2 separate regions of the Homo sapiens genome follow, and region 2 is linked to region 1. A link means that fine-mapping ties the variant in region 1 to the expression of a gene that starts in the linked region. Tissue or cell type: whole blood. Region 1 holds a variant in brackets; the other region holds the start of a gene. All regions are shown on one strand. Distances are from middle to middle.

The links. PIP is the estimated chance that this variant, and not a neighbour inherited with it, causes the effect.
Region 2: ISOC1 starts here. The variant in region 1 is fine-mapped to the expression of ISOC1 in whole blood (TOPMed, PIP above 0.99).

What each region holds. Positions count from the first base shown.
Region 1 is chr5:128,923,206-128,931,392 of GRCh38, reverse strand. The region is part of intron 6 of LOC105379168 (a long non-coding RNA gene); the gene reads right to left. Among named protein-coding and RNA genes, the nearest start is that of SLC27A6, 38 kb to the left of the region's middle. RefSeq lists a silencer at 5,180-5,380. The variant T/C (reference allele first, on the strand shown) is at 4,195.
Region 2 is chr5:129,089,844-129,098,030 of GRCh38, reverse strand. ISOC1 (isochorismatase domain containing 1) reads right to left here and starts at 3,282. Exons shown (of 5, transcript NM_016048.2): 1 at 2,956-3,282. The coding sequence starts at 3,264. MIR4633 (microRNA 4633) reads right to left here and starts at 343; the gene lies at 265-343. LOC124901060 (a long non-coding RNA gene) reads left to right here and starts at 1,252. Exons shown (of 2, transcript XR_007058926.1): 1 at 1,252-1,482; 2 at 2,632-5,105. RefSeq lists a silencer at 2,885-3,664.

The sequences.
Region 1 (8,187 bases):
TAATCTAGCTCAGGACTCACAGATGAAGAAAAGCAGAGCCAGTAAGGCTGGTCAGCCACAGCCACCCAGGTAATTAATCACCTGAAATCATTCCCAAGGTTAACTTCTGACTCTTCCAAAAATTAATTCACTTCACTTTTCATTTTTTTTTTACTCTAAACATGTGAATATTTCAAGGTTACCATGCCTAAATAAGGTAGCACTTAGAAATTTATAAAAAAATGAGTAACATATTAAAAATCTTCACATTGTTTTGACTATGATAACCCTTCAAATTATTATTATTATTAGAGATAGGGTGTCTCTGTTACCTAGGCTGGAGTGCAGTGGTGTGATCACAGCTTACTGTAATGTTGAACTCCTGGGCTCAAGCGATCCTCCCACTTTAGCCTCCCAAGTAGCTAGGACTATGGCTGTGTGCCACCATGCCCAGCTAATTCAATAATTTTTAAATCAATTAGATAAAAGATTAAAACTGTCTCTTCTTATTTTAAAAATTATAAGTATTTTCCCCTTTCTTCTTGATAATGTAAATATTTGTGAGAATAAGTTTATCTGTCCCTTCTGGAAGCTAACTTTAGTAGCCATATTCTTAGGATGTTCACACAGGGATGAAATCACCCAACAACCCATTTCTCAGAATGACCCCCCATTGCTAAGTGACACATGACTCTGTTTGGCCCATGAACAAGAAATATTTTTTTCCAACACATTAATACTTCATTGGATAAACTAGATGATGCCCCAAAGATCCTGTCCCTTCATATCTCAGAATTCAGCAGATGTAGGCAGCCCAGCCTTAATCATGTTCAAATCCGAAATCACAGGCAATACCTGTTAATCATGTACTCATATTGTTTAAAATCTCTACTGCTTAAGAATTTATATGAATAACATCTGGGCCTTACATCTATTTCTCAATATCACACTGCAAGCAAAGAGAAGAAAAATTTCTAAAATTGTATTTTTAAATGAAAATTCATGAGCTTAATGCTGGCAAATATCACGTTTTCAAATTTTTCTAAGCATCAAAACTGCTATTTATATTCATATTCTATTTTTACTAATTGTATCTACATGCTCACTGGGTAAGGTAAATTAATCAGTCTAAATGAAATTATTTAGACTGATTTTTACTAGTCAGTAGTAAAAACATTTTTTTTTGCATTTTTGTTAACTGACTAGTATTTCATGCTTGTTTCATTCGATATTTCACAAGTGCTTATTTGCTACAAGAACACAGTTGTGCTCACTTAACTTCGAAGCAGTTATAAGGAATCATCACATTTACATGTGGGTGTTAATCCAGTACAGATTTGGGAAACTGGTGGCATTTTAAGTATGAGTTAAAGTTTTCAACATATCCTTATTGGATTTATATACCAAACATTTAGTCTGAAAACTCTTGTGCAATGAGGACAGTTGAAATGTCAAAACATAATATCCTAAAGAGGAAAACAATGGAATTTAATGGGCACTTTCCCCAACAAACCTACTTCTTTGCATTTGAGGACCCCTTGCTATGGCCTATTGATGAGAAGTTGTGCAGAAATTAAGGCACCAACTGGATGAATCAACTACGAAAATTTACACTGGCCATCTAGCTTGTTACTGGAAAGAATTAAACTAGATCTCACAGTCTATTAACAAATACTAAATAATCTTGATAATAATAATGATACTTATGCAGAAAAATACATGCTTCTTTACACTGGTCTTTAGATGACTGCAGATGGCATTAGACACATTTTTGCTTCATACACATTTCTTTTCTTGTACATACCCAGGACGGGCCCCCAGCATGTGAAACGGAGTGGCCATAATGAATTAGTTTTATTCCCCAATGATACAACTAGGGCTCCCTTCTCTTTCATTGCTTATGACTGCCTTCCCTTTTCTCCCTCACTGAATATTGGTCTTTTGTTGCCCGACCCTGACCCCAACCAGGATTTTTGACAGTAGAAGGGATATAATGAGGATCCTGTTGAAGAAAGGAAGGTGAAAAAATCCCAAGATAGATTCTTTCTCTACTTACTCTCTCACCAGCAAGCTGAATTATCAATTCTCCTATCAAACTTTCACCTCTCAATGTTCCCATCCTTTCCTTCACAGGCCTCTAATGAATATTTTTGCAAAGAATCTCTGAGATAGTGTTCTTTTGCATAAAGCAGAGGAAAAATCCCTAATGTTGAGTTAAACCTCAGGGAAATAGATTGCAAGTCATTGCAAACCAGAGAAACCAACTTACACAGTGGCAGATTTAAAAAGAAAGGGAACTACTAGAAAGGCTGGAGAATCAGACATGGGCAAGGTAAGGATAAAAGGAGGCTGGACACAATGATTACAGCTAAAACCACACCACCAAACACCATGTGGATGCAGATACTGTTATCCTTCTTGCTGGCTACGGGGTGCAACATGTGGCACCCAGGCCCATTCCACAATGAACAGTGTACTCTGTTGTACCACTACCCATGCAGCCAATGTTAATTTATGCTGCCAGAATGAATTCTTGCTCCAAACCAAGAAACTGAAAGGGTCACATGCTCATCCCTTATTTCTAGGGGCCAGAGAAATAGTGTGTCTGGACAGTGGCAATTTTGCAGTAGGAAACATACCCTTATCTCTCCAGTTTTCATGAGGTAGAGAAGTTTCCATAGTGAGGAGTTTCAAAGCCCTAAACGTCAAAATAAACTAAATGTCCAGTATAGTGTGACATTTTCGAGATGATTTGAAATTGTTTATGTTAGTTTTTAGACTTTTTTTTAAAGTTTTTTTTAATGTTTAAAGCACAGTTCTTCAAACTGTGAGGTATAATCTATAAAACAGTCATAAAATTGACTTAGTAAGCCATGATAACAAACATTTTTTAATAGAATGGAATAGAGTGTGCATATCACATAGTAGGATGAGTTTTGCCCTGTAAAACTTTTCTTTCACTTATGTCTATGTAGAGGTACATATTTATTTAATTATGGTGTCAAATGCTTTTATTGCTGCAGATCATGTAAAAAAAAATAGTTGAAAACCACTGCTCCAAAGGACTGTATACTTGATTCAGGAACTGGAGACTAGAGAAGAACTGTAGTTTCACAGGGCAGTGGCCTGGGAGAGGAGACAACCCATAGCCAGAAGAACAGGCCAGGATAGTAGAACTAGAAATATGTGGACCAATCTCCTGGCCCTGTAAGAAATGCAATTAGAAGCTGATGCAGAACCAAGAGCCCCTGGGGACTCCTTTTTTCTCTTCCTATTGTCCTTTACCCAAACCCCAGATGGATGGAACTCTTTGTCCATATCCCAGTAATTATTCCCAGTGACTGAAGAGAGTGTGTTGGAAGAGATTACAGCCGTGAGACGTAATTTGTCATCTCAAGTAAGAATCTGCTATGAATTTTCCTCTGAGAGAGCTTAGAGTACAATGTTGGAGTCAGTGTTATTATTGCCATATTTAGGCACACTGTGAGTTAGGTAGGCTACCTGTATAATAATGTTCAATTTCTAAACAACTGACTCATAATAATTTGGCAACTTCCTCTAATAGTTCTAAGTGGAAGTGGGGGTTGGTAAAAGCCATGTGGACAATAGAGGAAGTATCTTTTAGTATAAACATATGAACAGGCAGTAGAAGCCATGTGGAAATTGCTTTGTCATCTTTCTCATAGCGCAAAAATTCTTTTCAGATAGCTTATAACATTTAATTTGGCATTTGCACAAATTATAGTAATATAAGATATTTTTGATGTTGCCGTACTTTGTCATTACTCATTTTCAGGTCTCCCTAAACTGAGTTATAATTAATTTGAAGTTTTTGAAAGGAAGTCTCTCAAATATTTTTTGTGGGGGTAGATCTCATGATATTATCATTTTGATCTTCCTGTGTACCATGCCAGGGCATTTCTTCTTGCCAGGGGAGAATGCATTGAATTGTATAATTTATCCAATGATTAAACATTGTTGGCTGGGTGTGGTGGCTCACACCTGTAATCTCAGCACTTTGAGAGGCCAGGGCGGGTGGATTGCTTGACCTCAGGAGTTTGAGACCAGTCTGGGCAACATGGTAAAACCCTGTCTCTTCTAAAAATACAAAAATTAGCCGGGTGTGGTGGCGGGTGCCTATAATCCCAGCTTCTTGGGAGGCTGAGGCATGAGAATTGCTTGAACCCAGGAGGTTGAGACTGCAGTGAGCCAAGA[T/C]TGCACCACTGCACTTCAGCCTAGGTGACAGAGCAAAACTCTGTCTCAAAAACAAAACAAAACAAAACAAAAACACTGTTTTATAATTCAGACTGGCTTGGTGTGGTTAACAGGACATGGAGCTAGAAGAAAATCATCCCCCAAAATATAGATATATATTTTTCTCACAGAGAACTATACTGTGAACTGCTAAGGAATGTGATTTATTTACTCCCTTGTACCCAAGCTGAATATAAAGCTTAACACATAACTGACATTCAACAAGCCATTCTTGAATTGATAGTCACATTTCTCTCTAACATTTACTGAGCACTTACTGTGAGCCTGTTACTGTTCTATGGTCTTACTGTACATCCTTTACTAATTTAATCTTCACAAAAACCCTGTGAGCTGGATCTTACTGCTGTATAAATTTTGCAGTTGAGGAAATGAGAAAGGTTAAATCATTGCTCAAAGTACACAGCTCATGAGAGGCCAAGCTGGGATCTTAACCTATAGAGTCTTGACTCGAGAGTCCACATCTTTGATTACTGAGTAAGACTGCCTGTTGTGACGGTTAAGTGTTAGTGGAAGGAAAGAGGACCACAAGGAATATTGCCAGAGGTTTTATAGGAATGACCAAAATGAGAATAAAGGTAAAATTATAAAATTTCCTAACAGTGTGCCATTTACTTTGCTCCGCCTGCCTTTAGTGAAAGCCTCCAGGGCTGTAGATTAGAATCTGTTTTAGTGGGATGGACCAGAATATCTCTGAATAATAGGGGCTTACATAAGTTAGAAGTTTATTTCATTATTGTGTAAAATAAGTCTGGAGGTAGAAAGTTCATTCCATGTTTTCATAAGAACACAATTTCTGTCTTTCTGCTCTATCAGACTAGGGCAAGTTTTCCGTCTTCGAGTCACCTCATGACCCAGGATAGTCTGTGAAACTCCAGCCATTATATCTGAGGGTGTGGGCCAAAAGACAGACAAAAGGCAGAATAGTGATGAAAAAAAAAAAAAAAAGATTTATCTCCTTTCTCTCTGCAAGTCAGCTACTTCTAAGTGACATTGACAGAAATCACACATAACACTTCCGTTGACATTTCTTTGGCCAGTGCTTAGTCACATGATTGCACTCAGCTTTAAGGGAGCCTGTGAAATGCAGTCTTTCTATTCACGCATCAATGAGCTCAGCTAAAAATCAGAATTCTGTTCCTAAAAAGGAAAGGGTAAATGGATATTCAGGTGGGCAACTAGAAGTTTCTGCCACACTGCCTGAATGATATGTCAACTATTCCATGAAATCTTTCTTTTAACTTCTAATGTGATATGATCTCTCCTTTCTTTGAATTCTACAGAATATTTTGTGTGCTTCTAATTGCAGTTTTTATTACCTACAATTACCTGTAAATACTCTTGCCTTATCCTTACAGTTGATGCTAAGATCTATGAAGCCAGTTACTATCACAGTTCTTGCATTCCATGCATTAAAAAGAATAGTCTTACACTGAGTAGATGCTCAATAAAAGTGAAATGGAATCTTTTTTTAGGTACCATTTAGGGAAAGAAAGGAATGATCATAAATGAAGTTCCTATGAAGACATAACATGTAGATTATTTCCAACATATCAGTTAGACTGTAGAGTTTTCAGCAAATTAGAATTATTTGAGCTCCTACTTTGTCATAAGTACAGTACTAAGTAATAGAGATAATTTTAGTACATCATACAGGCATGTTTGAATAACATAGAAAATGGGAATGATTAGCTATAATAATTATCATTATTATTTCCTTCAGAAAGTTTCTATGCAGAGTTTAACAAGTATATAGATACAGATGAACTACATGAGCAAATCCCCAGTATTATCTGAAATAGAAAAACCAAAATGTAAACAAGAGAGCATACCACAAGAATAATGGAGAAGCTTTTCTCAGAAACTGATTTTAAAAAAACCTAGAAATATTGGATTCCTTGATAATTATGAAGAAGACACCATATCTTATTTAGTAGCACATCTGATTATTGGGAGATGCATTCAGAAAGATCTTTAACCAATGGTGTTTCAAAGGAGCCAGGAAAGACAGAATGTTGATAGAAGGCAATATGGCTGAAGCTAGGAGCTCCAGGCAAAAGTGGTATTAAGAGACCTGGCACAGAAACAGAAAAGTATGGGCATGGTTGGTGAATATCAGGGCTTTTGCTGTAATCTAGAAGGGATCTAAAGTGGACATGTGGTGGGAGAGATGAAACCGAGATAAAGGATGTGTCCCCAAATTCCTAGGTTGAAGCTTAGTCTCCAGTGTGATGATATTTGGAGGTGAGGTCTTTGGCAAATAATTAAGTAATTGGGGTGGAGCCCTCACAAATGGGACTAGTGCCTTTATAAGAAGAAACATCAACATTGGTCCAGTCATTTCTGCAAAATGGAGCAAATTAATCATAATATTCACCTCATTCTCAAAACCTCTTCTCAAATGTAGCTCATCTTAGACTCCTGCCAAATTGAACCACTCATTGCTTTCTATAAGCTCTGTGCTATCCTCCTCCCACACTTTGGATGGTATGCCATCCCACCACCTGAACAAAAGTCTCCCTCTTATTCAAAACCTAGTTAAAAATATCCCTCTGTCTCGAAGCATCCCCTGACACTCCTAAATCCCAATAGTACTTGCTTCAGCACTGGCTATAGTACAGTGTAATCATTAAAGCATGGCATCTAACTGGAATCTTGCCCTGGTACAGACTGTGTGATCTGAAGTGAACTATTAATTTCTCTAAAAATGGAAAGAATACTACTGACCTCCCAGGGCTGAGCTAAGGATTACACAAGATAGGGCACTCAAAGTACCAGTACCTATAATACAATACGATGACTACAGTTAATACAATGTATTGTATATTTGAAAATCACTAAGAGAAGAGATTTTATGTGTTCTCATCACAAAGAAATAAGTATGTGTGGTAACGCATATGTTTGCTTGACTTAGTCATTCCACAATGTATACATATTTCAAAACATCATCTTATATGCCATAAATAAGTTCAATTTTTACTTATCAATTTTAATAAATACATTAATAAAAAGTACCAGTACCAAGAAATGGTCACTGTGTTAAATATTTATATCTTTGAATCTCCCATAGTTTTATGATAAATGTCTTATTAGTGACGAATACCTATTAGGTGGCCAACTCTGCCTGGCACCACTGTTGGTCCTAAAGATACAGCTGTGAATAACAAGGGCAATTCTTTGCTTGTATACATTACTTTTCAGTGTTAAGACAATAAAGTACATAAATACTTTTTAAAAAAATAAAATTTGGATTGGTTTTATGTAGAATATTAAAATTAAGTCATGTTAAAGAGGGATTGGGTAGCTACTTTCTATGGGTGGTTATGGAAGTTTCTCCTAAGATGGGACATTCTAGCTCTGACCACAATCTTTTCACCACTACCCAACAAAACAGGACATAATAGTATAACTTTTCTTACAAAAGAAATTATTATAATATATGGTTCTTTATGTCTGTTTTCTCTCACTAAGCATGTTTTCAAGGTTCATAATGTTGCAACATGTAGAAGTATTTCATTTCTTTTTATTGTGGAGTAATATGCCATTATATCGATATTACCACATTTTATTAGTTGATGGACATTTAAGTTGTTTCCACTTTTGGGTTATTATAGATGCTGCTGCTATGAACAATCACTTAGAAATGTTTGTGTGGACATGTTTTTATTTTTCTTGGGTATATACCTAGGAGTAGAATTGCTAGATCATGTGGTAACTCTATGTTTAACGTTTTGAAGAAGCTCTAGGCTTTTCCTAACTGTTTTTCAAATTTTATATTCCCACCATCAGTGTATGAGGGCTCCACTTTCTCCAAATCCTCCCTAAAAATTTTTATTTTTGGTTTCTTTGACTATAGTCATTCTAGGAGGTGTGAAGTGGTATCTCATGGATTTCAATTTGCATTTCCCTGATAAATACCAGCATTAAACAAAAGGA
Region 2 (8,187 bases), 170 kb before region 1:
ATAAATCACTATTTACGCAATGAACTACATGTGGCCAAACTTGTGCTCTTTGTCCCTGCCTTCAAGAAGGGGCCAACCATCCCCAGTAACATGGACTCACCGATAGGCCACCTTGAGTCTTCCTAAGTGACAAGCATTTATTCCAAAGAACAAGGAGCAGCACCAAGACAAATGAACAAACAAGAGCTCAAGTTTGTGACTTGTTTTCCAGACTGCTCAATTCTCATTAAACATGCAAGCAGTAGTGCTGTGTTCGGCTGTAAGTGACGCTCTGCATATGCCTGGCTAGCTCCTCCACACGCATTTGTGGAGGAGCTAGCCAGGCATATGCGGAGACTTGCCATGTAACCTGCAGCAAGTTACTCACCTCCACCTCCCTATGTTCTTCTGCACTTCCTCAAAGTGAAAGTTCATTTATTAGGTAAGGAACAAGAATTGAATCCAAGTTTGCATTCACTGTGCCAGGCATTTAAAGCTGCCACTCACATGTTGTGGAATGAACTGTATGGTCTCTTACAGCCATAAAACATCCAAGTCTCTAGGATTATGCTGTTAGGTTCCAAAGAATATAGTGTACAGTAGTCATGAGAAATATCATGACTTTCTGAGATTATACACACATATGCATATATATGTATGTGTGTATATATATCTCTCTCTTCTCATATAGACATAAATCGGTATCAGAAGGTATATACGATACACAGTGTGTGCATATTTATGTATCTATCCCCTTCCTTTATCTACCTCTAAGCTAGGAGAGGCATCAGGCTGAAGAAGTCAAAGTATAACTACTAAAATGAGATAATATAGAAGAGAAAATATTTTTAAAGAATTAAAAATATAAAGCTATATAAATGCAAAAATATAACTAATGCTTAAGAATTATTAGACTAGTTGGCGGAAAAATTTCTTCTGAAGAGGGAGTAGAGTAATGCTATTGTTATTTTAAACCTCACCAAAAAAAAGTGAACTATACATAATCTCCTATACCAAGCAAAACACTGCAAAAGCTACAGGTGACCAGAATTATATAACGCCTTTTGAGAATGTACAAGCGTTTTCAGGTACATACATTTCATTAATTTCTAGAATGTTTTTAAGAGTTGCCAGACCAAGGCCCTGAAATTTTCAAATATAAAAATCCTATCTTGGAAGGCGGGGACTCTTACAGAGCTGGGGCCTAGTTTAGAATAGCATTATCTTAGATAAGAGCCCAGCCTCCCTCCAAGCCGTAACAGGAAATGCTTCATAAAGAAGTCTGCATCCTTAGTCCCAGACCTCCGCAGTTAGTATTTGGATTCTAGCCTTTATAAATGGACTTCTCAAAGGTGCATCCAACATCTGAGTATTCTGGCAGCAGTAACGTAAAAGGACTGACAAGGAAGGCTGCAGAGAGGTGTCAGACACGAAAACGCTTGAAGACATAAAAATGAGGAGTCTTAAGCACCTAAGAACTGCAATTCCCTATCTGAGCAGCAGGTAAGATTCTGGGGTATCAGATCACTGTATCCAGTTCCAGGTTCTCCACTGGCAGAGAGTGCAGTCTCTGACTTTGTCCTCTGAATGCAGGAACTTTATCGAAGCTAAAGTACCTGCTTTGGACACTTCTGGCACAGGTGTTGGGGTGACAGGAAACATCATCAATTCAGCTGCCAACTACAGCGGAAAAAAACTAGGGAATAATCCTCAGAAAATGGCACTGTTAATGGGTACAAAAAACACAGATAATAGGAATAAGCTCTAGTGTTCAGTAGCACAATAGCGTGACTATAGTTAACAATAATTTATTGTATATTTCAAAATAACTACAAAAATGAATTTGGAACAAAGAAATAAATGATAAATGTTTCAGGTAATGGATATTCCAATTACCCTGATTTGATCACTACACTGTATGCTTGAATCAAAATATCACGTCTCCTATAAATATGTACAACTATTATGTGCCCATAAAAACTAAAAACAAAAAAGAAAGAAAATGACACTTAAATATTAAAATACCTTTTATCCCCGAATCCCACATTTCAGTTTGGTCTTCTGAAAAAATGACTTATCAGTTTCTCAGCTAAAGAAATGATATCGACAGTGTACTACCTAAATTATACCTTATATTCTTTCCTTTCCAAAATATAAATTCGCCAGTGAACAATCTGATCCTAAAGAGGGCGGAAGATTAACCCGCCTAGCATGAGAGCACAGCTTAAAATAAATGCTGTTAAGTAGTCCTCAGGTAGAACAACTTTCCCAGCCAGCAGGCCCAGGAACTCAAGGTCTAGCTTAAGTTGGGTATTTGTATTCAAGAAGGAATTACAATCATGGAGTCAAATGACTTTTTCAATGCAGACGACAAAACGTAATCAAGTCAGTAGACACTTTACTAAGAGGAGGCTAAGCAAATGGTTATTTGCTTAAGGTTAGGGAACTCTTAAGCCCAAGGACCTGAGAGCCTGGGAAGGCGGGGGGGAATGGGTTTGACTCCCAAAGTTTGCGTTTCCGCAAGTGGTTAACACAACTCTAGGAACAAACCCTAAGACCAATACTCCCCACAATCTCATTTCCCCCCATTCTGCATCACCCATCACCCCAAAATAAAAACAGCTACTACAGCACAGCCCTTTGGTTACGCAGGAGGCTGGGACCTGATCCTGGCATAAAAAGCGGATGCGGGCGACCGAGGACCACACACGTGGGGGCGTTCGCGGGCGCTGAAACCAGCTACGAGGCCCACGCCCCCGCCGGGGACAGCTGGTGACCATCACCTTTGGACAGGGGCATTCCCCAGCCGGCCCCGGAACTTGCGAAAGACGCGCAGCCCTTCGGACTCAGCCACTCGCGCAGGGCCCGGGTCCCGGGCGGCTCGGGGCACCTGAGGAGCGCGGCGAAGGCGGGGACAGGGACGGGGACGGGGACGACTCGGGAACAGGGAAGCGCGCGGCCTCCCGCAGGACCCACCTGGATCTGCAACGGCACGAGGCGCACCTTGCAGCGCTCGCTCACCGCGAAGCCCTTGGGCAAGTCCACGTACTGGCCCCACTCCTCGGCGAACAGCTGCACCACGAATTTGCGGTGCATGTCGATCTGGTCGCCGTACAGGCTGAGGAACTTCTGGATGAGCAGCTCGTAGCCCGCCCCGTGTGGCACCGACGAGGGTCGCGCGAAGACTGAGAAACAGAAGAGCACCGGGACTGTGCCCGACGGCGCCCCCGCGCCCCCGGCGCCGCTGTTGGGGAGCGCAAGGACCGCCGGCTCCGCAGCCGCCATGTTCCCCCGAGCGTCTGCGAGCTCCGAGGCCGCCCAGTCGCACCCAGCCGGCTGCCGCGGCCCCGCCTCCCGGCGATGCCAGCCCGCCCGCCAGCTCGCGGAGGCGAAGGGGCGTGTCCTGACGACCGCTGCTCGCGCGCTCTCTTACCCGCCCCGGAGGGCGGGCCGCGGCGTAAGGGTGGGTGGTGGGGCCGGGGTGCGCGCGTGAGCCAGGGAGCGCCTGCGCTCGCCGGCCGGGTCCGCCCCCTCCAGCTTCCCGGGCCGCTGCGTTCCCGCAGTTCCCCGCTCGCGCCCTTTCTGCCGCGGTTCTGACTGCCGGCAGAACGCCTAGTGGTCTCGCAGACCCAAGACCCGCCTGGGCTGCCCGTTGTTCTTGCCCCGGTGCTGCAGCTCACACAAGGGTTTGTACCACCCTTCCCCTAACGCTGGCCCTCTTCGCGGCTTCGCTCGCCTTCGAATGAGCAGTGTTCTTGGCAGTCTAGGGTTGTGGTTGGGTACACAGAGCCGCCAGGACGAGTTACCTGTTGGCTCTGTGCAGAAGCATGCAGTCCTCCTCGAGATGGCAGTGGTATCTTACAACCAAAGGGACAGTCCGATAGATACCCTAAGAAGAGCAGCAGAATTTAATCCTTAGAGGGCCAGTCAAGGTTCAAGTTTTGTCTTTTTTCGGTCCCACAGAACACAATATCTCTAGGAATGGATTTGATATCTGGCCTCCCTTCATCTCAACCTATTTCTGGGAGGACTTGGATTTGGGAATATAAATACTATTAAAAGCAAAAATCTGAACTTTATATTGAAACTAAGGATATCTGTTTTTAAGTAAGTAAAAGGGATCACTTTCAAATAAAACAATCCTCTGCCTTCTGCACACTGTAAGGCGCTATAATTAACTGGAATTAGAAAGCATGCATTATGAACAGAATTTCCTTGGAATTGAGTCCTGCGAAGATAGGCATGGGCCTAAACATAAAATTAGATTTTAGGTATTAAAGCTGTCCTCTTCTAAGAAAATAACCTTTAAAGCAGGGTTTCCCAACTGACACTGTTGACTTCTGGAATGGACATTTCTCTTTCTTGGGGATGGGGCATCTTGTGCATTTGCAGGATATTTAGCAGCATCACCGGCTTCTACTCCCGCTAGATGCCTAGTGACCGCTCCTCCCTCTAGTTATGGCAATCAAAAATGTTTCCAGACATTGCCAAATATTCCCCAGAGGGCAAATATACCCCCTACTTGAGAACCACACTGCTTTAAAGTTATGAAAAGACCATCCTTTGGTGTTTCTTGCTCAATTGTACCGAAGCTACTAGAAATAGCCATTTTTTTCTGGTTCTCATCACACTTTGAGAGATCCCATTTAAAAGTGTTGTCTGAACCCGTCAGACCCAAAATGATATTTTTTTCCGGATACCACTCCATTGCAAGGTCTTCTATATGCAGATATGCTGATTTGTGCTAATAAGTGTACCCCCTCAAGACCTGATTACCAAAAGGTACCTACCTATTTTGGGTGGACTAATAAAAGTGTTCCTTCCACCCTGTAAAGCCTCCTAACACAGAGTAGGTTGGAGATTAGAGATTGGCCTAGACTTCAGACATCCTCAGCGAGGACCTTGGCATCTACACAGTCTTCTGCCGTGGCCCTCATGGCCGTGAGTCAACATACTTCATTTCCCTTTCATGTTTTTAAATTAGGTTTCTGACCCTTCAGTAAGGAAATCAACTTCCATATATATTGTGCTGTCTGAGATTGGTCCTTGACAACCTAGTTTAATGGTGCAATCATTGTGGTAATAGCATGTTAAATAACATTAATAAAATAGATATTTGATGGGCACATTTACCATTTATTGAATATCAACTGTGTATCAACCTCTGCATCACTGGGCTGCAAAAGGGAGGTGAATGCACATTTCAGTGATAAATTATTATCCTCAGAAATACAATTATTAAGATAATTTTTATAAATGTTACCAGAAAAAGTGAGTAAGACCCCATAAATGAATATTCAAATGACAAGTAGAAAATAACTGTTCTAATTGACAAGATCATATTATGGACCAAATGCCCAAAATTTTCTCATATAGGACTCTCAGTAGCTTTATTAGTTAATGTTAAATGCTTACTTTTAGAATCTAAATTCCAAGAAAATCAAGAAGGTATATTACACAGTATTGATTAATACATTAATATGCTACAGAAACAAACCCCAAAATCTCAATAGACTGATAAAACAAAGGCTTATTTCTCACCTTTCCCAGTTAACAGCAACATTTGACAAACCAATTACTCCCTTTATTTTGAACCATATTCACTTTGTCTTTGGGATACCACTCTCTCTTATTTCTCCTTCCACCTCACTTCAAGCTCGTTTCCTATGTTCCTCTCATTCCCCAAACCTCTATAAATACAAGTATACCAGAGCTCAGTCCTCACATCTATTATCCTAAGACTGTGGCTTTAAATATCACCCATATACCTTTGACTTCCAAATTTTTAACATCCAGGCCCTCACTCTGCACTCCATACTCATACACAAGTGCCTATTCGACATCTCCACTTGGATATTCAATAGATACCTCACATTTAAATGTACTAACAGAACTCTTAGTTTTCTTCTGTCCTCGAATATTTTCTCTCCCCTGTTGATATCTAGGCAAATGGCAACCCCGTTTTAGTAACTGAGTACAATAACCAGGGGTTTATCCTTTAATTTACTCCTCTTTCTGTCCTTGTCCAGTCTATCAGCAAGACCTGGTGGTCAGAACCAAATTCCTCTCATTCACACCAGTGCCACCACCTAAGACAAAACCACTGTCGTCTTCCATCTAACTGTAACTCATCATAAGTTGTGCCCAATATTTGACTTTTGTATCCCTATTTATCCATTTACCTCATTTACATAGACTTTTATACTCCATTTACCACACGGCTATTAGAGTGGCACTTTTTCAAAAACATAAATTTAGAGCGTGTCACTGCTGTGTTCAGAATCCTCCAGTATATAAAAATAGACCTCAAGACAATCTAGATGTTAGGATTAAGAGAAAAAGAACTTTAAAGAAGTTGTTACAAGTATATTCAAGGTCTTAAAAGAAAGGGTAGCCATAAGACTGAGCAGATAGGGAATACCAGCAGGGAGATGGAGATGACTGAAAACATAGCCAAATGTCACTTTTCAAGCTAAAAGTGCAATGTCTGGAGTGAAATGCTCACTGGGTAATCTAAACTTCAGATTATAGGTTCCAGAAGAAATGATTAGTGAAATTGCATGCAGAGTACTAGAAATTATCCAATGTGAAGAACAGGAAGAGATTGAAAAAAGTATGATGACAGTTTTAGTAACCTGGAGGGCAATATCAAATGATCTAATATGTAGTTGGAGTCCAAGAGGGAGAGATGAGACAAGAATGGAACAGAAAGAATATTGGAAGAAATAATAGCCAAAATAGCACTGTCTATTAAGTCTTCAGTGTGCTGATTTTTATCTCAGAGTCTGCTTTCCAGGGAAATCAACCTGTGACATTTGTTGCTAGGAAAGATGAAAGGAGGCCAATGTGGATGGATTTTGGAGCTGGGTCACCCACTGTTGGGCAGATAATGAATACCTAACCACTAATATCTGTGGAGCACAGATAGCCCCTGGCAGTTTTTTTAAACTTCCAGCAAGATGAACTAGAATCATATACTACTGGAAAGGAATGCCTTCACTGTAATTAAGAATTTGAAAAATATGGAGGAAATACTAATTATAAGAATAAAGGAATTGAATGACAGTTTCAAAGTTTGATTGATGCTCTAGAAAAAGACCAAAAAAAAGATAGTTGGCAACTAAAAGCTAAGTGTGAAGGCTGGAAGAACTTTTTGGCAGCATTGAGTCTCTCAGTTCCTGCAATAAGAAGAGAGAGAAAGCTGAGGACCAAGACTAGGACTGAAGGTAGCAGAGCTCCAAAGAAGGTTAAACTCTTAAAAAATGCATATTTTCTATGCCAAGGTCAGGACTCTGGTTGAGAAATGGGACCGTGACACATGGGATAAAGTTGATGACACTGAAAATTATGAGTCCTTCGATTCTTTTAATTGATCTGGTCTTTAGAAATGACTTACTCTTTTCTTAATGACTAGCATTCCCTCATTTCTTGAAGGCAATGCAAAGCCTTTTCTCTAGCAAGACATTAGCTTTCCCAGGCTCTTCCCTCTCCTTCCCTCCTGATACCTATATCCATAAGTAGGCTTAATTAACAGTAAAATCTGGCCACAGATATGTTGGGCCTGAAAAAGAAGGAATATATCCAAGAGCAGCTACAGAATCTAATAACCAGCATATACCATCAGGAGCAGAGAGATTATGCACAGCACTGGATTTGGAGGGTGTGTGATCGAGGATGTGGAACAAAAAAGTTTCTCGGTTAGGAAACACCATATTAGGATAGAGGATTTAACACCCTAGTAAGGTTCTTGGGAGATGGTCTGAACACAGTGCTTCTAAGGCTGCTCTTAAATGGGCCATAAATTTACAACCTTACCCCAAGGCTATGTTAACTGTCCTGCCGTCTATTACAATATACTCTGAAGAGATATAAGTTAGCTGGACATCCTGCAGAATATCACCTTCATTCACTGTATCAATAACATCATGCAGATTGAACAAGATGAACAAAAAGTGACTATTCATTGAAGGCCTTGGTAAGACACAAGTGTTCCAGAGGGGAGTGATAACCTCTAAATAGTTTCAAGGAACCACCACATTAGCAATGTTTTAGGGCCCAGTGTCCTAAGGCATTCTAAGACATCCCCTCCAAAGTACAGGACAAATTATTGCTTTTTACACTTGCACTTTCTACCATGAATACGGAAACACAATGTTTAGGAGACCTCTTTCGACAATGGAGGCACCATTGTGCCACAACTGAGAATAA